Regions from separate parts of the Homo sapiens genome. Here regions 1, 3 and 4 are each linked to region 2. Evidence: fine-mapped expression QTL. A gene starts in region 2. Each other region holds a variant in brackets. All regions are shown on one strand. Distances are from middle to middle.

Region 1 (6,121 bases), 49 kb after region 2:
CATTTGCATTTACCCATAATTATTCCAAAGTTTTATGCAAATAGTAACATCATTAGTTTCTTTACACATGATTTTCTGCTCTTATGTAATCCTTCATGAATATATATATTTGCTGGAATTTTAAAAAGACAATGAAAATTACTGCATAATTCAGAAGTAACAGTAGGAAGGCCCTGAATTATTTATATTGGGTAACTGCTAATTCAGCCTTAAGGTTTGCTCTTTCTAACATACCACATTGTTTGTCTGATTTAACCTGTGATTACTGTTTTTTGCATTTCATATTTCTACATGGAAGTTGAAATGAATATTATATAAAATAAATGAGATTTACTTGAAATTTAATTCCAAAGATTTACATTAAAGACTATTCTCTTCTTAAATAATAAATATCTATGAACTTTAAGACAGCTGTGAAATCCACATCAGTGCAGTAATGTTTCAGATACTTAGGTACTTGTTCTTGAATTCTTTTGTCTGTAATGGTTACTAGGAATATAGTTTTATGGCTAGTATAAAACACAGGATATAATAAAGTTTGTTGGGGGAGGAGGTTTAAGCATATGAGATATGAAATTTTTGACTTTTGGCTTTTGTAACAACTTGAAATATAGGGAATAGTGTTTTGCTTCAAAGCTAACACTCGTAGCCTTAAAAATATTAATCTCTCTTTATATATGTATACATAATTTATGTAAGCACAGTTGTGCCTTATTTCTGAATTTTAGTTCCTCCTATGCTTATAAATTTGTCAATTCCATTATTATGCTATTCCTGTTATTGCCTGAGTAATTAAGGATTACATTTCTCGACCAAAACTTTTTGTTATCAGGGTATTTTAATGTGTTTAGAGAACTTTAAAAAGTAAAGTAATTTTTGCACATGAGGTAGATCAAATATTGTATCCTCTAGTTTAGCCAAAGGGTTTTCATTTTCACATGTTCCATATGTTGTATATAAAATAAAAAACTGCTTCTGTGCCTCTGAGTTATCCCTGACTACTTCCCCCAGGCTCTTCCCTTCAAGTCACCTTCACAGATTTCAGGTTGGCTCGGAGTCACGGAAGACCCTCCTTGTAGGTCTTGAGCTCTATTTGGGTGTGTGGGTGGTGCAGAGTGTAGAGGTTGCATGGATTCAGCCAAAATACTTCATTTCCAGTAGCTCCTGGAGAAAATGAGGAAAAAGAAGTGGTTTGAAGAGTACCATGTCAGGTCTCTAGAAACAGCTGCATTTTAAGCCAAGCCTTTTCTTTTTTTCTTTTTTCTTTTCTTTTCTTTTCTTTTTTTTTTTTTTTACTTTTTTTCGGAGTAGTCAATTCATACTTATCTTCTTTGATCATTGTTTTCTCAGGAGCTCCCCAGTGTCCTCCTCCTTCATCAGCTGGCTAAACAAGAAGGTGCATGGACCATACTTCCGTTGTTACCGCAGTACGTTTGTTTAACTCACCTGTGAATTACTGACATTCCTACCTGAACACTTTTACGCCCTTAGTCTTTTTATTAAGAGGGTGTGGTTTTCCTCAGTCAGTAAGTGAAGTAAATTTGAGTTTTACTTTTTATGATTACTACCTTAACCAAATTTCTTGATGATTGGTTCTTAATCATGAATAGCTTTTTCTTTTTTTTTGGAGACAGAGTCTCGCTCTGTCGCCAGGCTGGAATGCAGTGGTGACTTGGCTCCTGCAAGCTCTGCCTCATGGGTTCAAGCAATTCCCTGCCTCAGCCTCCCGAGTAGCTGTGACTACAGGCGTGCACCACCACTCCCAGTTATTTTTTTATTTTTAGTATAGATGAGATTTTACCATGTTGGCCAGGATGGCCTTGATCTGTTGACCTTGTGATCCGTCTGCCTTGGCCTCCCAAAGTGCTGGGATAACAGGCGTGAGCCACCACACCCTGCCCTATATATGCTTTTTCTTAAAGAATAAAATGCTTCAAGTTGATATTTGAAAATTATTTATCCCCTGAACTAGTGTTGTTATGGAGAGAATTAACTTTACGAACTCCAGCTGTTTTTTAAACCATTAGCATCTGGCTTTTCTATAAGCTGAAGAAAAATATAGAGAAAAAAATTAGATATGCCATTCTGTGTACCCTTCATTCACTTCCTACTGATCAGTTTTAAACCTTATTATTAACTTATTTTACAGAAGTGATTACTGAAACTTGTTTCTTTTGGTCAGTTTTTCTGTAACATATAGCAGAAATTCATCTTGGATTTTCTTCTGTGAAGAAGAGACAAGAATACAGATTCCAAAACTCTTGGAAACCCTCAGAAGATATGACCCCTCTAAGGTGAATATAACTTCAATACCAGTTCTTATTTTGGGGGACAGTGTTTCAAAGGAGATTTAATTTTGATTAAGAAGCTTTTGAATCTAATAAAAAACCACTTAGTTTAAAATTAAAAAGAATGAAACATTGTTGAATATCTGAGATATGTTAAGTAATGCTCTTTGAAGTTTGTAGCTTATAGAGGGACAGAGCTTATAATGAGCCATTTTAAATGAAAAAAATCTGTTAATATATGTGTTAGCAATTTCAGAGAGTTGGAAACTATAACTTGAAGTTCATAAACTGCTTTTCTTAGCAATAAACTTAAGTTGGCTATTTCTGCTTATTAGACAGTGACCATATATTATTTTAGATAGAAAATTTTTTTTGAGTGCCAGCTGTATACTGAGCACTGTGGATGGCGGAGGCTAGAACAAAACAGACAGCGATTCTGAACATGTGGGTGGCACAGAATAGCAGGGAGAACAGACCATTAGAGAAGCAGTTATGGTTAGAAGGAAAACATCTCTAATAAGGAAGACTAGGGTGCTGTTAGAAGCATATAACAGGGGCATGGAATCTAACCTGGGAGGGTCAGGACAGGAAGTGACATTTAATCTGAGTTCTGTAGGATGAGTAGGAGTTAGCAAGAGAGAAAGAGGGTCTACCAGGCAGAGGGAACACGATTTGAGAAAGAATGGGGGTGGGAAGGGATGTATCTTGAACTAGAGGAACTCAGTGAAGTCCACTACTGCTTTTACATTTTCAGATCTTGTTTTTATTTCATGCAGATTTGATAGAGCAACTGGATTTTGTTTGCCTTGAAATCCCTAGCCCTTAGCAGAGTGTTTAACACTTAGTAGGTGGTCAGTGAATATTTGCGAATGACTTTATAACCCTGTAATAATCAGTTTTGCTGCTGGGCTATGTTCAAAGGCTCGTTAGGTTTAGAGAGCTGCCTTGGAAATGTGTCAAGAGTAAATCGAGCTCATTCAGTTCTCTTTCAGAGGAAAGAAGCCCAGGTTACAACCTGATCACTTTTTGGAATTCTTTAAACTTGAGATAAGCAGAGATGGGCCCTTTCTGGTCCCAGTGGAAACCTGTCCCACCCACCTTCGAATGCTCGCTCCTGAGATGAATCAGATGTAATGAGCTC[A/G]TGGGGAATAAAAGGCAAGCTTCTGGGTTCTGCTCGGTTTGTTGATGTAGATGTCAAACACTGGGCAACAGTGATCGTTAGATTAATTTCTCCAACCCTGGAAAGCCTGTTACTATAATAGAAACCACTGCTTTTGATGATCTTTAAATGCTGGAAAGATCCACTATGATTTTTCTTCATGCTTTTAATTTCTGGGAAGCTTTAGATATAATTGGATGAGAAGGTCATTGGGTTAAAAAAATAATTCTTTCAAAGAGAAGAATTATGAACCTGTCTCATCCAGTCTTTTCAGATGACACTAACCAGCATCTGTGCACTTTCTGCCATGTTTTATGCAAACCATTTGTTAGGCTTTTATGTTTCCTTTTGGCTTGGGAAAAACTCCCAAATCTTTTTTAGGATGTAGGAGTTTTCACCTCCTCCTAGTGTTCATTTCACCTGGAGGTTATTTTTCCATTATCCATAGCTCTAATTCTGTACAGGAGATGGTGACTCACTTTGCTTTTTAATGAAAATTGGGATGATAAATTTAAAAGTTCAAAGCAAGTTCATGAAAAGCAAGTACAGAACAGAGGTAAAAGGAGATGTTTTCTCCCTCTTTTCAGAACTCTGCCATGTGTAAAAAAAAACCATCCAGGATGCTTTATTTCTTTTGAGACTAACAGTAAGAAATGATAAAGATTATATGATGTTGAAGTTAGCTCAAACCAGTGTGATTTTTTTGTCCTCTACCATTTGAAGGGAAAAAAGTATAAAGCAAACCTGGCTTTGATATTTACACAAATAAACTTTGAGTACATTAAAATAATTATGTAATGTGTGAGGGTATAAGGTATTTTGTTTGATTCTGATTTATTTCCATCATCATCTTTCAGTCATTCTTACTAATGCAAATGTATACTGTCAAAATATTTTAAATGTAAAACTTTTAACTTTTATTAATCTTTATTAAATTGCCTTCCTCGGTGATTTCTATAAATTTTTGTATGTTGTTTGAAGTCTTTCCTTTGTAACCACAGTATGCTTTTAATATATGTGTATTTTATGAGGTGTGTTGACTTTAAATTTATTTTGTTTTATTTTATTTTTTGAGACAGAGTCTCGTTCTGTCACCCAGGCCGGAGTGCAGTGGTGCAGTCTTGGCTCACTGCAACCTCCACCTCCCAGGTTCAATCAATTCTTGTGCCTCAGCCTCCCAAGTAGCTGGGATTACAGTCTTGCACCAGCAAACCTGAGTAATTTTTGAATTTTTAGTAAAGATGGGATTTTGCCCTGTTGGCCAGTCTGGTCTTCAACTCCTGGTCTCAAGTGATCTGCCTGCCTCGGCCTCCCAAAGTGCTGGGATTACAGGCATGGAGCCACCACACCTGGCCTAAATTTATTTTTAATAGAGATAAAACACAGGTGCTTGCAAAAAGTAATTCTGAGGGGCGTCCGCCATTGCTGAGGCTTGAGTAGGCAATTTTACCCTCACAGTGTAAACAAAGCCACCAGGAAGTTCAAACTGGGTGGAGCCCACCACAGCGAGGCAAGGCCTCTGCCGCCAGACTGCCTGTTTAGATTCCCTCCTCTCTGGGCAGGGCGTCTCTGAAAAAAGGCAGCAGCCCCAGTCAGAGACTTATAGATAAAACCTCCACCTCCCTGGGACAGAGAACCTGGGGGAAGGGGCAGTTGTGGGCGCCACTTCAGCAGACTTAAATGTCCCTACCTGGCAGCTCTGAAGAGAGCAGCGGATCTCTCAGCACAGTGTTTGAGCTCTGATAAGGGACAGCCTCCCTCCTGAAGTGGGTCCCTGAACCCCCGTGTAGCCTGACTGGGAGACACCTCCCAGTAGGGGCCGACAGACACCTCATACAGGAGAGCTCTGACTGGCATCTGGCAGGTGCTCCTCTGGGATGAAGCTTCCAGAGGAAGGAACAGGCAGCAATCTTTGTGGTTCTGCACCCTCCACCGGGGATACCCAGGCAAACAGGATCTGGAACGGATCTCCAGCAAACTCCAGCAGACCTGTAGCAGGGGACCAGACTGTTAGAAGGAAAACTAATAAACAGAAAGGAATAGTATCAACATCAACAAAAAGGACGTCCACTCAGAGACCCCCTCCGAAGGTCACCGACTTCAAAGACCAAACGTAGATAAATCCATGAAGATTGGGGAGAAACTAGCACAAAACGGCTGAAAATCCCAAAAACCAGAACACCTCTTCTCCTTCAAAGGATCACAACTCCTCACCAGCAAGGGAACAAAACTGGATGGAGAATGAGTTTGACGAATTGACAGAAGTAGGCTTCCGAAGGTGGGTAATAACAAACTCCTTCAAGCTAAAGGAGCATGTTCTAACCCAGTGCAAGGAAGCTAAGAACCTTGAAAAAAGGTTATAGGAATTGCTAACTAGAATAACCAGTTTAGAGAAGAACGTAAATGACCTGATGGAGCTGAAAAACACAGCACAAGCACTTTGTGAAGCATACCCAAGTACCAATAGCCGAATCGATCAAGTGGAAGAAAGGATATCAGAGATTGAAGATCAACTCAATGAAATAAAGCAAGAAGACAAGATTAGAGAAAGAAGAGTGAAAAGAAATGAACAAAGCCTCCAAGAAATATGGGACTGTGTGAAAAGACCAAATCTACATTTGATTGCTGTACCTGAAAGTGATGGCGAGAATGGAACCAAGTTGGAAAACACTCT
Region 2 (6,121 bases):
CCACGGGGATCATAGATTATCTTCCTTCCCAAAACGCTAAAGCGTAAGGTACAAGTGATGAGTCTTTCTCCTGTAACCCCCTAGTGTGCACTGATTGTGGGGTGTGAGGATGGTGAGCAGATGATTAAAGTACTGTAGCATAGGTCTGATATTATAATGACCTTAAGTCCCGGAGACCCTGTTTTAGACATTCTATTTTACTATTAAACCTTAAGACCTGATTTTAGGTTTGGAAAATAATCCTCAAGACCACTCATAATTCATAAACCTGCTGTTTTATGCAGGAAGAGAATAGTCCTCCTGAATTGTGTTGACTGCTAATCCACTTTAGGCCTGACACTGAGTGAAAGGGCACCGAGAGTGGGAAGAGTTGGAATATGCCCTTTGGGCTTTGCTAGTATAGAAACAGGGTGCCTGGGAGGCCCCTTCCAAGTCACAGGAGAGAGGCAGCAGGCTGGAGGGGGCACAGTGAGAAGCTGTTCCTCCTTGCAGCCCCTCTCCCCACCCGCCACACTACTGTTGATTTGCACATTCGTGCTGTGCCTCAGCCTGGGGCGCCTGTCCTCCTTTCTCAGCTCAGGAACCTGCTATTTCTCCTTTAAGATCCTGTGCAACAGTCGCTTCTTTTCTTACAGATTCCAAAGGCCCTGAGAGATTTTTTTTTCCCTGTGTGTTCCAAAGTGTGCTGATCTACGCATGCCATAGCATTTATAAGAAGGTAGCAAAGTTAGTTATGAACATTTTTGTCTCCCAAACTGGACCGTGAGTTCTTGGGCCCAGGACCATGTTTTATGCTCTTTAATATCTGCCCCAGAGCTTAGCAAAGGGCACATCAGCTAGAGGTGCTCCCTATCATTTGAATGAATGGAGTTCAGCCTTTTGGGCCTCAAGGATAACTGTTGTAAGATCAGAAACCATCTGTTTGGAACTTGTTCATTAGATTATTTGGCTCTCAGTGGTTTTAGTATGTCTTTATGTTCTCCTTTAGTATTTAGAAAATTATCTGTAAAATTACCAGTCTGTTTTAACCAGGTTGCGACAGTGCCTTCCCCAACAAAAGATGGCTCCTTGCTTCTTCCCCTGTCCCTCAACAAAGAAAGTTTCAGGGGCCAGCATGGAGGTGACAGCTGGGATTGAGTAAATCCCAAGAAGATGGCTTGCTTGTTTTCATATCACAATCTTAAAGTTTATAGGATTTATTTTTTTTCTACTTAGAGTTGTTCCTTTACAGTCAATGTTATAGGCAAGCAGTGCCTATCATGTATCTGTTAGTATCCTCATCAGTACGTTGCTCTAGGAAACTCTCCTGACATGTGATTGGGAGAGAGAACTCCCAGCAAGTCCATTTATCATATGACTAGAGTAAGTGAAAGGCAATTCTTTTTAAAATGTGAGTTATGGAGCTTTGTAATGTGCCATTTATCTATGTCTACTGTGGAAAGGAAGGACACCAGGGCAAGTTTATTACTTAAACGGTGTGTTCTCTGTTGTCCTTAGGGCTTAATTTTCCACACCTTGTTCTGGAACATAGTAATACTCTAACATGATGAATTTCCATGAAAACATTGATTAAGCACCAGGAGTTGCTTACCCACGTGGAGTAGGCATTTGACCCTGCTTATTAGTCTTCTGTGTCTAATTAAACAGTTTGGTTAAATGTTTACTACCCCACATATGCAAGGAATATTTTCTTGGAAAAAAGCGAAAACAGCTTTGGAAATTGGAAACAATCTAGAACTACTAGGCAGGTAAGCTTGAGAATTTCCCAAGGATAAAAGCAATGAATTCAGTCAACCATAGATTTGAAATGCTTCACTAAGAAATGAAATGGAAGGATCCCTACATTTCTTTTTCCTCCCATCAAAATGGTATTGACAAGAGACCATAAACCTTGGGCGAATGGAACAAAAGGGAACTATTTGCACTCACACTAAATGGATCACACGTGAAATATTTAGTTCCCAGTTTTAAGAAGTCAATATAAACCACACAGAGAGAAAATTCTTTGTCTCCAGGCCTCCTTTTCAAAACAATCCCAGCAGGTATTGCACAATTGCAGACAATACTGTCCTAATGCATTAGAGCCTAAGTCCCCTAAACGCATTCAAGTTAAGAGGGCTCAAGCCTACAAATGTTTATTCAGCACCTGCTTCTCTGTCTCCAGGACATCCTACTTGTATTCCCAGGGCCATCCTACTTGTACTCCCAGGGCCTCCTCCTCCTTAAATGTTTAGCAAGTAGGTGAATGTTGTATGTCCATGTGAAAGATACTGGCATTCCTAGGGTGCTTAGCAGAGTTGCAGTCACATAGTAGGTATCCAACAAATGAGTAAATATGAAGGAAAACATAGAAACTGCCTTCAAGAGGTCATGGGCTAAACTAGGGCTGGGAAAAGCACTTGGTCCTGTGCACTTCCTTGGAAACAGAAGTGAGCCAAGGCTTGAGGGAGGCACGAAGGAGTTCAGAACCACTGAAGGGAGCCTCTAGTTCTTACTTGTAATGCTTTCCCCTTCAGTGCACCACACAACACAACAGGACCAGTCCCCTATCAGGGCCACCACTCTACCGGGCTGGGGAGGAAAGCCCTTCGCAGTCCTGCGGGAACAGGAGGCACTCCCACATTGCTCCACTTCTCTGTATTCCAGTTTAATTAATTTTTATATTTTGAATAAAATTACACCCACTCTCTTCCATTATGGTGAACACTTAAAATTACATTTATAGAAAATTACATTTACACAAACTTGTTTAAAAGCCAAATCCCAGACCTAGGCTATTGGCCAAATTCCATTTAAAGGGGATATTAAGTAAATTAGTTGAGCTGATTAAAAACACCTTCATCAAAGTAGAGCATTGGTGCCAACAATATTAAGAGTTGAACTATTGATTACATTTTTTTTTCCACAGCAGATAATACATTAGCAGGGAGGAAAAGTGATTACTGCTCGCTTCCACTTCACAGGTAGAACTACTGATGGGGGTGACGCGGTAAGGTGGGAGGGCATGAAGGCAGGGGACGCGGCCTAGGTCAGGAGGGACGCAGAGGAGAAAGGAAGAGGAGGGGTGGAGGCTGGTGGCTGGAGGGGGCAGAGGTCAGACGCCTCGAAGGAGGGCGCCGTGAGGGCAGAGCCGCGGCCACCTCTACCGCAGCAGCCCGTCGGGCCGGACACCAGCCGCAGCCGCCAGCCCGGCAGACGCTGGAAGCGCGCACAGGGGTGCTCCCGCTCCCGGCCGCCAGAGGGCGCGGCCGGCGATGGCGCGGCGGAGACGGAGGGAGGAGGGGAGCCGGCAGAGAAGGGTCAGCCGCGGCGGCAGGGCGGCGGCGGCAGCGGCGCAGCTCCGCTCCCCGCGCGTCTCCCTTCCCCGCGCCCAGGTAGGGCGCTCAGCCTCCGCCGCCAGGATGCGGCCGCCCGCCTGCTGGTGGCTGCTCGCGCCGCCGGCGCTGCTCGCGCTCCTCACCTGCTCCCTGGGTAAGTAGCGGGCGGCCAGGCGCGCAAGGGCGAGGCGTGGGGTTCGCGGGCACAGTCGCCCGTGCCCCGGTCGGCGCGGGGAGGGAGGCGCAGGGCGGCCCAGCCCTGCCCCGCCGGCGCGCGCGTCCCGCCGTCCGGTCCCCGCCGCGCCGCGCCGTCAGCAGCGCCCTCTCGCGGCGCCCAGGTGGGACCCGGGCCCGGGACCCGAGGCGTGCCCGCTCGGCCCCTTTCGGTCTTGGGTCCCCGCTGCCGCCCCGGCCCCAGACTCGCGTCTCCCAGCCTCTGCCGCCCCGAACCGGCGGGCGACGGGGCGGCGAGGGCGCAGCAGCCGCCCCCACAGGAAGCGCGCAGGAACTGTGCCACCGAAGAAACTTTGCAACAGCGCGAGTGGCGGCGGCGGCGGTCCCGCCCCCCTGCCTTCCGCCCGCGCTCCGCCGTCCTGCGCGCCCCGCGCCGGGCGGGAGGCTGGACGGGAGCCGGCGAGGCGGCCCTCGAGGCCCCGCGGCTCCTGTTCGACCCCCGGGGGCGAGGACTGCGGTCCCGGTGTCCGCGCGCCCCTCCGCAGGGCCTTCGGGACGTGCCCTGGCCCCTGAGGATAAGCGGCCAGCTCGGCGCCAGCCCTTCCCGGATTCCGACCCGGAGGAGGACAGGGGCGCCCGCTGGGCCTCCGCGGGAGCTGGCGCGGCGGGGAGGCTTGCTCCTGTCTCGGGTCTCCGCTGGGGACATCAGGGGACACGTCTGCGAGCAGAGCAGTGCTTGCCCGGTCTCCTGCTGCTGTAATGCCCATTCTTTTTTATTTCTTTTCTCCTCGCAAGGGCATTTCCCCCCTTTATCTTAAAACGATGTGATAAAAGTTAAAAAAAAAAAAAAAGCAGCCTTGTAATTGACTTTCATGATCAGATTTGTTCAACTTTGAAAGCTTGAGCGAAAAATTATTTTTTTTTCAGACTGCTACAGAGTTTTTGTCCTCTAACCCAGACTTGCTGGTGTGAAAAGGCAATGATTTCAGATTTTTTAGTAATGGCAGAATGGTGCAGTTTAGGAAAAGACGTAGCGTTATTGCGCACTGCTCTTGTTAGCCCACCGGAACCTTGACAGCCTGTTTTTATTTGTATTTAAGCTCTCTGAATAAGGATTAATTTGCTGCATTTGTGTACTTCTGGCATTTCTATAGGCGCTCAGTAAGTGTGGGAAAAGAGCAAGATTAGTTGGTAATTGTTTACATGCATGATTAATTAGGCAGCAGTGTAATTAAAAATATTAGGGCACCTCCGGCAGAGAAGGCTGTAGTTGGTCTTGGGGAGCGACTGAATTTGGCTGGAATCGGCTTCAGTGGAAGAAGGGCATTGCTGGGTGGCAGCCCTGGGAGAAAGGGAGGTTGGAGGTTTGGGAAAGCGACTGGGTGACTCCTGGCTGCATCAGTTGGCTTGTTGCCTGGATGTTTTGCAACTAACCAAATGGGTGGGTGGTAGCTGAAATTGGTATTCTATTTATAGCACTGCACTTTATAATGCTGTACTGGGGGTATAATATTTGTATATAATATATACAACATATGGGCTGAAATGCACATTTGTATTGCTGTGTCTATTTTTTATTACCCCCAGGGGAATATTTGCACTGTCCAAATTTGATAATACACTGAAGGACATTCAGAATGCACTAAGATGTCAACACATTTTTAGAGATGTCTATTAGCCTTGTGAAGTTGTCAGATAAGCACAATAAATAAGACATAAAATGCATTAAAAGGTCCCTGTGAGACATTTGGCCTTTGGGAACTGGCTTTCATGGGTTGGCACAGACGGGAGGCTGTATTCTTCGAGGTCTGAAGTGAATCATGAATACCTTTTATGGAGCTCTGCTTCGATTTAGGGGAAGGGCACCGACACGTATAAAGATGTCCCCACTTACGATGTTCTTGGAATCTTGCTGAAACAGAATGTGACAGGCGTTCTGTCACATGTGAACAATCTTGATAGTTTATAAATACCTTAAATATTCCCATATAAGATTGGCCTGACTATATAGTTTAGTTTCCCCACAAACTAGAGCATATTTGTTTATATTTTTAGAGAAAAGTCAATATAGAAAATTTCTTTTAAACCCACATGCATATACAGACACGGTTCACTGCAACTTTGGTTCTAAAGTCTGGCACCAGTTTCAGAATGAGAAGATTGAGTCAGGCCTCCAGGTTACCATTTGTTAGCTGTGTGGCTTTTAGTGGCTTTGAGCTTCAGTTTTCTCATATGAACAGGGCGAATGGACTGGATAGAATACTAGCACTTTGCCACCTCTTACAGTTTTAACATACTGATCCCGTTGTAGCAGAGATTGACAGCCACCTGCGAAGTAACCCTTTAGCCCTTGTTTTCCTAACAAAACTAATATAATCTGGGTTGGGGGGAAGGATGGTGGGGTGGTGGTGGCAGCGGTGGCAGCAGCACTGTGAGACATTTCTCAGTGGCCTTTGCATATAGGGGCAGCTAGTGCTCTACAGAGATATCTTTAGAGATTGTTTGGTGGGGCTCCTGGTAAAGCTCATTCAAGGTGGCTGACTCAGCTGGGATGCAGGCCTTTTTGCTCTGTGTTATCCTCCTTCCCATTGCCTATTAAGTGGATCTGAGGGATGGAGCCATGGTGGCCA
Region 3 (6,121 bases), 170 kb after region 2:
CAACAATAAAACTCTGGGTCGAACAAAACAAAACAAAACAAAACCAAAACCCCCAATCTGCTCTAGACCATAGCGACCCCTTAATCCAACCACTTCATAGCTTTTTGCATGTCCCTACCTGCACATTTGAACATCTGAAGACCCCTAAAAGAACAGTGTACTGAGCATGCCTTATATGAAAAACCTTTTAGGGACTACGAAGTCCCCCTGTTTCCTAGAAGAAGGCAAGTGCCTCTTTTCCCTTGATGGTGACCTGAACAGCACTCCATTTGATTGGGATGTGATGAATCAGGAAGACTTGTGGGTAGGCATAAGATTGTTCTCTTGGATTCCCACAGGGGATCCCCTCCATACTCTCCGTTATCTTAAAATTTGGGTTATCTATATTATTGATCATCCTAGTTCAATGTGGCTTAAGATGCTGTTCTAAAACCATTAATAAAAGTATGCTCAACTTTAGTTGAGCTGGGAGATGGATTTGAGACTTGCCTCCTGTCTCTCTGGCTGACATCCCCGGCAATAAAGCCTTCCTTCCCTGGCAGTACTCATCGTCTCAGTGATTGGCATTCTCTGTGACAAGCCACTGGGCCTAGGCTGAACCCCTGGTGTTCAGCAACACAATCTTAACAATATTTAACTGAATACTTTAGGAAAATTTACATGTTAGTGGCTCGAATGTCTCCTTGACCCTCCCTCTGCCACTTATATTCAGGCCTAAGCACCCCTCTTTTGGGGGAAATATGAGGATGCCATTATAGTACTGGGGTTATAAGCACAGGGACTTTCAGGAACCAGGTGGGTCACAGTGAAATACATTTCCACAGAAACTGTGGACTTGGCTCAATAAATAGAGCCATTTATAGTCACTCAAGGCCCCCACGTCCTGAACCTCAATCCATGCATGGTTTTATAACCCTTGCTTGTGCAGGAGAAGACAGCAATTGGAGAAATGCTTCAGATGGTCTTCAGTCTCCATGCGCTGAGTCATTTTTCCAGACTGGGAGAAGCTGAGTTCCATCAGCCGAGGCTCTTCAGGGTCATCAGGATCCAGGGACTGTACACATTACTGCTCCTTAGGGGCAGAGGTACTATTGTACACAGACTTCAGGGTATTGGCTGATATGTCTCAGAGCCAGAGGCCACACCAGGAACCACAGAGGGAGTCAATTATGTATCCATATTTTGATACACCCCTTAACAAAAATAACCACTTGAAGCACTTTAAACTCTTCCAGGTATAATGTATTTCAAGCAGCAAACCTAACAGGCATTTTCCTTTATACAACCTGGCAGAAACATTACGTCAACCTAAAGTACACTCTTAGAAAAAAACCATCACATTTAATTAGGCATGTCTTGCCTATGCAGATTTTCAAGTACACTGCCAATGCAGACTTTCAAGTTCTCTGTCAAGACCAAATCTCCTAATTCCAATCTCATGAAGGGACCTTTCTCTGGACTCATCTCTAGGGATAGCCTGACAGTGTGGTTTTATTTGTGAGTGCCCCTGCCAGTCACAAGCAGGCCTTTGAGGGCATGCTCCACATTGCTGCAGGAGGGCAGGCTCTGGGTAGACCTAAGAGGACCTGATGTCCAAACCTGGCTCTGCCTCTCAAGGGCTATGTGATACAGGGCAGACCTCTTCACCTTGCTAAAGGCAGTGTCTTCTGTAGAAAGGGCACTATATGTCTAACTCACAGGAATGTTGGATAGTGCACATTTAGTACAGGGACACAGGCAACATTCAACAGATTTTATTCTTATAAAATAAAGTCCTACAGTTACTAAGAGGCACAGGAGGGGCTTGCTTAACTCATGCTCTTGTGCTATCTTTGTTTTCATTTGAACAGTTTTTAATGTAAAACAAAATATACAGAAAAATGCATAAATCTAGGCAGTTTAGCAAATACTTGTAAAGACAGCACTTGTGTGAATTTTCAAGGAAAGGACAACATTACTGATATCCAAGGAGTCTCTTGTAGGTCCCACCCCTCCGTTTACTTCCCTCTCTGCCCCTCCCCTGCCTGCCCTGACCCCCTCCTCTCACACAGCGTCCAAATAGACTAGAGCTGGCTTGGCTTTTGGAAAAAGCCTTCTCTGGCAGTGAGCAGCAATCCCTGTAGCACAGGATGCTGAGCACTGGAGGATGGCAGAGGCGCTAACAGACGAGCCTACCTGCCCTCCCATTTCCACCTCCCACACAGAAGTGCATCAGTGCCCCACAGGCCACGGCCTCCCTCCAGGGCTAAGGGATAGCTGTGTGTGCTGAGAGGAACAGGCACCCAGGGGAGTCGGG[G/T]TGCAACCGCTTTTTATTTCTATGTTTCCTGACAATCTGTCTTTCCTAACCCCTTCAGAGACCAAATTCCGTTGCTTCTTTTTCTCCTGATGCCTCTGATGGCAGTGACTGCTACCATCATTCCGGCTGCAGCAGGGAGGTGCAGCTGGAGCTGCATATTCCATAGAGCCGGGGTAGGGGGGTCCTGCCCCTTCTGAGTTTGGAGGGGAGCTCTCTGTGCCACTGCAGCTGCCTAAACCACAGGTGCAGACCCAGGCCTCCTGCTCTGCGGAGCAGGTACAGCTGCCCAAACTGCGGCTGTGGATTGGTGCCTCCCTGTGCTCCTGGGGGAGCTTGGGAACAGGCGGGATCTGCCTTCCTGCCACAGATGCAGACCTGGACCTCCCACTCCATGAAGCAGGCAGGAGACTGGGACAAGTGGTAGCCCTGCCTCTTCTAAGTTGGCGGGGTGGGAGCTCCCGGGTGCAGCTGTGGCTGTCCTCCCAGGCACAGGACCTGGGCATCTCTGCAGCCTGCACCCTCGGGGGCCCCAGGAAGGAACTCCCCTCAACCCCACCATCCCTGCAGGCTCGGGGGTGTCTGCTCCCACTGCCTGGCCTCTCTACTCTGGGCGCCTGCTCAGATATCTGAAAGGGTGATTGGGGCAGAGCCCTAGGGCCATGAATGACAGCAGGAGGCAGATTGATTTCTGGCCAGAAGTGGGTGGGTGCCCAGTAAGGCCCCACCTTCAGGCCAGAGAGAGCCTGAAGGTTGGGGGCCTGGCTGCCAGTCCTGCTGACTGGAGCGGGGACTCATGTTGCCTCTTCCATGGCCACCCATGGATCAACTGGCATGCACTTCCTCCCCTCTGAGGTCCGTAAAAGCCATAAGCTCAGCCAGAGCAGGGCAGAAGATGACCAGAAGCAGAAGAGGGCAGAGAGATGGGACCACCAGCTGCAGAGATGACTTGCCAGCAGAGGGGAGCTGCTCTGTCTGCTTAGAGTTTCAGAGACCTGCAGAGACCTCTGAATGACTTGCCTGTGGAGATGAGCCATTCTCTCTAGGGCCTCCTCTCTGATGAGAACCCAACACTGGACAACCTGCTAACAGAGAGGAGCTACCCACTCCTCTGAGCTGTTCTAACACTAAGTAAAACAGTTCCTCTTCTTTGCCCTTCACTTGTCTGTGTTCCTGGAAGCAGGACGAGAACTCAGGCAAAGACACCACAGCCACAGAGGTTTCCGGCCAGAAAAATTGACACCCCAGAGATCCTGTGAACATTTTGGGGGCTTGTTCAGGATCTGTAGAAGGGTAAAAACGATTCTGTCCTGTTTTTTGGAGTCTCTAAACTCCACAATAGTCAAAATGAAGGAAAAATACCGGGCCTCTGTCAGCCAGTTAAAAGTGACTAGAGCAGTTGCAGGACTTAAGACACAGAGGACAGGCTTGCTGGGGAGGACGTTGTCAATCCCCTATCACCCTTGGGTGTTGGGAATGTTGGCTTTGTTCCAACCCAATTTCCCTTCCTGGAGGTCTACCCATTGCATGGGACTGGAAGGAGGTCCTGGGGCAACTGAGGGTATCTGGCCAAGGCCATACCTCAGTATTATCCAAAGGCCTCTGAACTAACTCCAGTCCCCAACTGCCCGTCGGCACTAGGACCTCCAGTCTTTCCTATTGTTGTTTATTTCTTGCTTTCTTTGGTGGCTGTTGTGGTTCCTATCTCTTTTCTATACAGTGTTAAATGTTAAGGATGTTTGTTGAAAACCAGGGATGTTACTGCCTAGAATGAGCATTTAGCTTAGTCATTGAAAGTATAAAATAGAAGATTGAGTAACACAAAGTGGAGTGTGCCTTGGTGTCTGTAAGTAAACTCGTGGTAAAAATGTCCTTGTAGTTTACTTGGTTGCCAACTTAGTGCCAAGCACCTTGAGGCACAGAAAAGAAGCATTGCCTCAGGAAGGAAGCTTTTCTGTAAACACGAGGGCAAATGGTCCAAGGTCCCCCATGTGCAGGCCTTCTTTGCCTTGCAGTGTAACCCTAACCCAGACCTTTGCTGACATTGTAGGATTGATTCAGCCCTCTTAGTGGCCATCTCAGGAGAGGTTACAAGGGCAATCCCAGGGAAGTAGGGAAGCAAACTCCAGAGCTACCTCCAGCAGGGGAATCAATCTTCTCTGCTCCTCCCTATCCAGGTTATCTTTCAAGTTTACCCCAGCCTAGGAATCCTGGTTTTAGGCAGGTCCCAGTCTCAACTGCCCCTACAACAGAGGCCTGGTGAATATGGCCCCATTAAGGTCCAGAGGTCACCCTTTCTCTTCAGGACTTAAGGCAAATTAAGGGGGATCTTGGCAGGTTTTCAGACAGCCCTGATAGGTATATAGAGGCTTTCTAGAACTTAACCCAAGTATTTAAACTCTTCTGGAAGGATGGCCATGTTCCTTTTTGAATCAAACCCTGAAAAGTAGGCCCTTCTCAGCAAGTGGGAAAGAATGTTGGGAATGAGTTTTATTTACATCTTGTATAGGGCCAGGGAAGGGGCGGAACATTATCCAGTTGGAAGAATAGCAGTACCATTGGAGGACCCTAATGGGACCCCAGTGATGAAGTGGGACAATGGAAGGAAAAACTCTCAGGTGTGTATATTAGAAGGCTTGTGAGGGACTGGGACTGGGCCTCTCAATTGCACTGGGCTATCCATGGTAGATCAGGGATTGGATGGGAGTTCCAGTATCTTCCTGGAAAGGCTAACAGGAGTCTTGGTAAACACACCCCTCTATCTCCTGATTCAATAGAGGGACAGCTGGTCCTAGATCAGGCAGCCCCTCGTATCAGGAGGAAGCTGCAGAAAGAGGCCATAGAATCAGGTAGTACCTCCTGAAAGTGGCCACCTTGGTCTTGTACAATAGGAATCAGGAGGCCCAAGAGAGGGAAAGGCGACTCAAGAAAAAGGCAGAGGCTGTAATAGCCATATTGCAGGCTCACAAACCCCAGAATTCTTAAGAAGCACCTGTTGACCTCTGCAAATGTAAACCACTGGAGGGCAGACTATTCCCAAGACATGGGTTGCTGGGTCCAGGGCCAGTGTCCCAAATGGAGCAGCAGGGCTGATGGGTTCCAGGGTTCCTTTTCCTGGCTTTGGTGATTCAGATCATCATTGCCATTTAGGAGCCCTGGGTGATTCTGGGGATTGAGGGGAGGAGGATGGACCTCTTCGACTCTAGTGGGCCTTCCAATTCTCCTCTCCGACCTATGCCCTCCTTTTAGCATTACCGTGAGGGGGTCAGGAAAAGGTCAACCTCTTAGTTGTCACCTTCTTAGGCCGGGTCCCCAATTCCTGGGACTCCCTTTATCTCCCTTGTTTGAGGAGGACCTGGTCCCACAGCTTCACCTGCTTGTGTTAGGGAGGCAACAGAGAGTGGCCCCTACCCGTTGCTAGATGCAATTTAGCAAGGGCCATCTAGGACTAATTTAAAGGGTTCATACACCCTTCTGAGGTACCTTTTTATCGCAACACCTCTAGGGTCTTTCCCCTGGCCCCTAGCAGCATGCTTGCAGAGAGGCATGGCAGCTTGTCTTTAGGTAGATTGCTTATGTTTCAGATAGAAAACGAAATCCTTGTCAGACATACTATTGAATCTATCCTTGAGTGTATGAATTCTCAAGTTTGGTTGCATCTTGTTTAGACTTTGTTCTCAAGTATTTAAAAAATGGCTGGCTTTGTTCTTTAGGATAACAAGCTCCTTTAGTTCGAAAAGCTTCCCACTTCATTTGATGATTCAGTATTAATGTAGTGCCTCTGTGAATGCCAGGGCAGGGTTGGGAGCGCAAGGCCGAGGTCCTGCC
Region 4 (6,121 bases), 38 kb after region 2:
GGGATTACAGGCATGAGCCACTGTGCCTGGCCAAGCAGGCAGTTTTCAAGCAAGGTGGAAGAGCAGTGATAGAAGGGTACTTGGGACACAAAGGAGGGCCCCTACCATGGTGAAGTGGGGCAGGGGAGCTGAGGAGGGGATGTGATGCTCAAGGAGGGATTTCTGAAAGTGCTGAGCCTGGAACTGAGCCTACCTATTAGGCACTAGCTAGGTTGAGGCTGAGGTGGGAGGGGAGGGCTTTCAGGGTAAGGAGGACAGCAGGTAAGGTGGCCAGGTGAGAGGTGGAAGCACAGGTGTGTGGGCTGTGATGCTGTCCTGGGGCCAGCGGATGGGGGGTGGCAGTGTGGGCCACAGGCCTGGGAAGTCAGGATGGATCATGGTCACGCAGAATTGTATGTCCTCTGGGGAGCCAGGCTTCTCTGGGGGCTTCTCTGAGGGCCCTCCTGGTATTCTGAGGTGTATCTCTTTGGTATACAGGTGTTTAGCATCTCTCGTCTCTGGCAATACATGTAGCAGTGACCCTGGTCTCTATTACAGTTAAAAGTGCCCCTTGGTTGAGGATTACTACCAGGGAGTGCCGTTAGGGAGTAGACCTGGTAGAGTTTGTGTTTTAAAACCATCCCCTGGTGGCCTTAGGGAGAATGGCATTAAGAGAGCCAGGACTGGGCGAGGAACCTCATTCTAAGGTCGTGGGACTAGTCTTGGGCCATGCTGCACAGGGCGGGTTGCAGACTGCTGTGTGCCCTCCACCACAGCAGTTTGAGAAGCCCTGGGCTGGGGACAGGGCCATGGATCTGGCTGGGGGTGGCGTAGGGGTGCTGCAGGGCCAGAATGGTGGGAGATGGACCCAGGCTGGAGAGAATGGCAGGGACGCTTCCAGCTGGGACTCAGATGAGGTGGGGCTGCTGAGTGAGATTGAGGACAGGTTCTCAGGTTTAGAGGGTGATGATGACTTTGGGTGTCATATCTGAAGTGAGGGTGTGAGTAGCTGGAGGCTGGATATTTGTTTTACGCTCAGGAGAAAGATTTGGCCAGAAGATGGTAGATTTGAGAGTCAGCAGCATACATAGGTAGTGGCTAGAAGCTTGAAGGTGCTGCTTCCAGGGGAAGCCATGGGCCCTGCGGGAAGACCAGTGTCTAGGGGCTGGGCAGAGTCGGAGCAGACTGAAGGGCCATACGAAGGGATACAGAGAGGAGGGGCAGTGTGGGATGCTGGCTACCTGAGGACTGGCCCGTCAAATTGCCATCAGTAATGCGACATTCTCTGGAGAGGCCTCAGAGAGACTGGTCTCAGACTGCCTGACTAATTGGGACTGTGGCCTGCGCACTGACCTCAGGATGCATCCCACTCAGTGTGCTTCGTTGTTGCTGGCACCACCACTGTTATTATTTTTTAATTGTAATAAAAAACACCTAAAATGCACGTCTTAAGTGTACAACTCAGCAGTGTCAAGTGGAATCATGTTGTGTAACAGATCTCCAGAGCTTTTTTATCTTGTGAAACTAAAATCTGTATGCATTGAACAACTCCCCATTCCTCCCTACCCCAACCCCTGGCTACCACCATTCTACTTGCTGTTTCTGTGAATTTGATTTTTCTGGATTTCTCGAAGAGTGGAGTCATAGGTATTTGTCCTTTTGCGACTGGCTTCTGTCACTTACTAATGCCTTCAGGATTTATGACAGACTCTGTGTTGTTGCAGGTAACCTCAGTCCACTGTGATGGACATTTTCATCTGTAGACACCTATTTCCTTGGATGCTCATTTGGCATTTCACGTATGCACCCCCAAGGTGTACTTTGTCCTTCAGTGTATCTGTTCTGCCTTCAGGCTCCAGAGGGAGGTGGGACCTGTTCCCTATTCCTTTTTGCATCCCGCATAGCACGTAGTGGATTGCCAAACACACACAGCATTAGAACCTGTATTTCCATTGATTCATTGTCCTTAGCTTTTGAAGCTTAGGAAATAGCTACATTTCTTTAAAGTATTTGACTTTTTAGTGCTTTATTCTATGCATCTATTTAGCTTTATCACGCTTATACTTAATTTTTATTGTCCTTTATTTGCAGTTTTCTGTTTAGACAGCCTGTTGAGTAGGGGACTTAGATTGCCACTAGGTGGCAACATTGGTTTTACATTTAAAGGCATGTAATTAACCAATATTGTTAGGCAATGCACCCCCATCACCCCCAGCATTTAATTTCTGTGATAGTAAGTAGAGCCTAGACTAAAGCAATAAGGAAGCTTCCCTTTAATTATACGAAGGTCGGTTATTGTTCTGAAATTCTTTGCTTGGATGAAGCCAGCTAAGAGCACCCAAGTAGTTATGACCAAACTTTAATTTGGTCACAAGATCCATAGTGAGCTGTTACAGCTTAGGTAATTTCATTTTTGGGTTAACAAGTCTTTTGGAAGTTGAACTGTCCAGAAAGATTTTAGGGTTTGCAATTATACTTGATTCTGGATCATTTTTTCTTTTACAGAGTTTTTTATGCCACATGTATGATTAAAAGTTGACTTTATTCCATGAATAGCACTTTAGAGATCCATGAATGGGGCCAAGTATGGTGGTTCACCCCTGTAATCCCAGCACCTTGGGAGGCCAAGGTGGGCGGATCACCTGAGGTCTGGAGTTCAAGACCAGCCTGGCCAACATGGTGAAACCCTGTCTATACAAAAATACAAAAATTAGCCGGTCGTGGTGGCCAGCTCCTGTAATCCCAGCTACTCTGGAGGCAGAGGCAGGAGAGTTGCCTGGACCTAGTAGGCGGAGGTCGCAGTGACCCGAGATCGCACCACTGCACTCCGGCCTGGGCAACAGAGCGAGACTCCATCTCAAAAAAAAAAAAAGAGAGATCCAAGAACAAGAATGGCTGACAGCTAACGTAGGGTCTGTAGACAATACTTAGGGGGCAATGATGAGATAACTTCACCTGGAACTAAATGAAAATAGAGAAATAAGATCAACTTCTGAGAATTAAATGCTGAAATTCACAAAGCATAGGGAGGCAAAGTCACTTTAAAGAGGCAGGAGGGCTCCTTAGTTAAAACTTAGCTGGAGGCT[G/GT]TTTTTTTTTTTTTTTTTTAGATGGAGTTTTGCTTCTGTTTCCTAGGCTGGAGTGCAGTGGTGCGATCTCAGCTCACTGCAACCTCTGCCTTCTGGGTTCAAGCGATTCTCCTGCCTCAGTCTCCAGAGCAGCTGGAGTTACAGGTGCCTACTACCACGCCTGGCTGATTTTTTGTATTTTTAGTTGAGACAGGGTTTCACCATGTTGGCCAGGCTTCTCTCGAACTCCTGACCTCAGGTGACCCACCCGCCTTGGCCTCCCAAAATGCTGGGATTACAGGTGTGAGCCACCATGCCCCGTCTACTGGAGGCTGTTTTAAGAAATGGACATGCTCAAGAAAGAACTGGTGACTCCGTCAGCTGTGGGAGCTGAGAAAGGGAAAAACTAAGAGGCATAAGTTGTTGGCGTCCCAGTGCTGTGGTGGGAGCAGGCTGGCTCCTCAAAGGGGTGTCTCAGCAGCTTGGTGTGGCAGGTATGCACCGTGCCTGTAAGGGACGGGATGTCTGGGACCCTCATGTCACCTGGGACCCCAACTGTGAAGCATGAAGGTTGCAGTTTTGGTTTCTTCATCAATTTGCCCACCATGAACATTCGTAAAAGTTGCTTGGTGAGGCAGAAGTCAGCAGTAAGTTTTATCATTTGAATATTTATCTGATAGCTCAAAATATATATTCCTCCCACAATACCAGATGTCTAGAACTGCTGTTTAGTCATTACTCTGTCAGGTTGCACTTGACTACAAAGTCTGCCAAAAAATTAAGGTGCAAAAATTTAATGACTTCTGTGATTATGCATCTGTTTCCAGCTATTCTCTTTGCTTAGGCAAGTCATTACCTATGCCTGTTTTGCCTCAAGGTGCTAAAATGCAGCCTTATTAAAAACGGAAACATTTTTCATCATTACAGCATGAATCTAAAAAGAAAGAGCGTAAACTAACTTTTTATCTGACATTTAATACTGTGTGCAGAGTTGTTAGTAGAAGAGTTAAACTGTTTCCCTTGTTTTCTGCAACAAGGGTCATTGTAAGTAGTCATTTCCATCTCCAGTTTTGAAGCTTATCATGCAGTTATAATGGTGCTGAGGTTGATAATTTTATGTTCTTTCCAATCTATAACTCAGCTGACTTCATCAGGTTCTATTCTATGTGCAGAGTATCATTCTAAGTTGCTCTGTCACAAAGGATTAGAAAGGAATTTAGTAGAATGCGTATTCTCGTTTTTATAAAGTAGATGGTAACTATTTCATAATATAAGTGAGTATATCATTAAGCAGAAATTGTAAGTACAGAATCAGTGTTTTAAAGAATCCACTCAATAGGCCAGGCGCACCTGTAGTCCCACCTACTCAGGAGGCTGAGGCAGGAGGATTGCTTGAATCTAAGAGTTTGAGACCACCTTGGGCAACATAGCAAGACCCCATCTCAAAAGAGAAAAAAATTGACTCAACAAATATTAATTGAGCATCTATGGTTATATTAGTCATTTTTGAATGCAAAAAGACATCTGTAGACAACACATGGGGGCCTTGAGAATGACGATAACGTGTTTGAAGCTGTGTAGCAATATGTAAAAAGTTTGAGTTGACGCTGTGCTAATTGTGCATGTGAAGCCTGAGAGGAGAAGGCGGGAAGACTTTTGTGAAATCACTCAGGAAAGACAGGGAAAATGAGCTGGAGGACATAGGTTTAGAACATAGTTCTGGAAGATGAAGACATGAATTGCCAGAAGGTCTGCTTTTGGGATGCCAAGTAGGAACTGGAATTTGTAAGGGAACAGTTTGTGGGATGGGTAAAGTGTGTGTTGGGAGTGGAATGTGATCTTTGTAGATTGCAGTGAATGGAAGGGAGGGTCGGTGAGAGTGGGGATGTGGCTGATGACTACGGCTTCCTAAATGCAGATCTGCACATAGAGGAATACAGAGTTTGAAGAAGAGCTATTTTTTTCCCTGTTTTTTTCCTCCCTGTATCACAGATGGAAGGGTAATGTGAAGTGATCGAGACTGACTATTTAAAGAGGTATGCAAACAAAAAGCAAAGTGGAGGTGAGACAGACAGAAACCCATAAGGAGAGTTTGTGCAATGATCTAATAAATCACCTGTTTGAGTTTATTTTGTTCAGATGCCTATTATGTGCACTGCATCTGTGTCAATTATGATTTGACATCTGTTTTTTTGACTTAAAATTCCTTCTGGAGTGGATATTTGTGTAAAAATTCTTATATTAAATATTTTGTTAGTTACATGAAACAAAAGAGCAAACAGCTCAGGTTCTAGAGATGATACTATTAAGTATCTTGAATTTATGTTGTGATGGCAAAGCTGTCACCTGAGTCTTTTTTTTTTTTTTTCCTTCTAGAACCTGGGGTCTAGCCACCAAGCGGATCCCATGCTGAAACAATCTTTCCTGTAGTTTCAAAAGCATATTAACACCTGTCTAAAACCATTGTTGTTCTCCAGAGGAACTTTACGTAAGATTAAATTGGAAACAATGAAGGAGAGAAGATAAAGCATAATTGCATTGCTTTCAGTAGGTTCTAGTAAAGCAAGAATCCAGGCACCATTTGAAGACACTAAAGTAGGAACTTTAACCTCAGCACAAGGCCAGGGTCTTGCTTGCCCAGGGAATCACTTTGGATGGGGAGCAGAGAAGTAAGCCACTGTAGAAGGAATATTTGGGGAGAGGGGTAGGACAGTGTTTAGAATTAAGGCAGGAGCTGAGAAATAGGCAGAACCAGAGATACATTATGGTTCCAGGCAAGGCAACCTGCAAATACTGCCCCCCTCTCTAAAAAAAAATCAGAAGTCAGGATGCTTAAAAGGGTTTCATTATTGGGGGCAGAGGTCGGCGGGTCAGAGGTTGGATTACATTTTCTGCTTTAGACCAAATGGAGCTAACCTAGCTGCTTAGAGACCTCTATACTCTCTCCACCTGAACTATGTAGCTTTTGAAGAGAACTGACACTTCTAATTTTGTAGCCTTTTGTGGTGAGACTATAAACCCTTTATTTAAAACCTGGCATAATCTCAACTTTACAAATTATTTTTTTTCTGCTGTTT

Which allele goes with the higher level. Alleles are on the strand shown, and positions count from the first base shown. SD is a standard deviation of normalised expression in the study named. Not every link is listed here.
As copies of G replace T in region 3, the expression in pancreatic islets of the gene that starts at base 3,292 in region 2 goes up (moderate effect, 0.62 SD a copy in van de Bunt 2015).

The links. PIP is the estimated chance that this variant, and not a neighbour inherited with it, causes the effect. A credible set is the group of variants that fine-mapping cannot tell apart.
Region 1: its variant is the best candidate, but not a certain one, in a credible set for the expression of B3GLCT in left ventricle (GTEx, PIP 0.89).
Region 3: its variant is the best candidate, but not a certain one, in a credible set for the expression of B3GLCT in pancreatic islets (van de Bunt 2015, PIP 0.77).
Region 4: its variant is the best candidate, but not a certain one, in a credible set for the expression of B3GLCT in rectum (CEDAR, PIP 0.62).

Annotation. Positions count from the first base shown.
Region 1 is chr13:31,245,673-31,251,793 of GRCh38, forward strand. B3GLCT (beta 3-glucosyltransferase) reads left to right here. Exons shown (of 15, transcript NM_194318.4): 5 at 1,351-1,427; 6 at 2,183-2,294. Among named protein-coding and RNA genes, the nearest start is that of B3GLCT, 49 kb to the left of the region's middle. The variant A/G (reference allele first, on the strand shown) is at 3,430.
Region 2 is chr13:31,196,684-31,202,804 of GRCh38, forward strand. It overlaps B3GLCT (beta 3-glucosyltransferase), which reads left to right and starts at 3,292. Exons shown (of 15, transcript NM_194318.4): 1 at 3,292-3,471. The coding sequence starts at 3,402. RefSeq lists silencers at 2,933-2,992, 3,043-3,942, 4,003-4,252.
Region 3 is chr13:31,362,298-31,368,418 of GRCh38, forward strand. No RefSeq gene overlaps it. Among named protein-coding and RNA genes, the nearest start is that of B3GLCT, 170 kb to the left of the region's middle. The variant G/T (reference allele first, on the strand shown) is at 2,297.
Region 4 is chr13:31,234,288-31,240,408 of GRCh38, forward strand. The region is part of intron 4 of B3GLCT (beta 3-glucosyltransferase); the gene reads left to right. Among named protein-coding and RNA genes, the nearest start is that of B3GLCT, 37 kb to the left of the region's middle. The variant G/GT (reference allele first, on the strand shown) is at 3,066.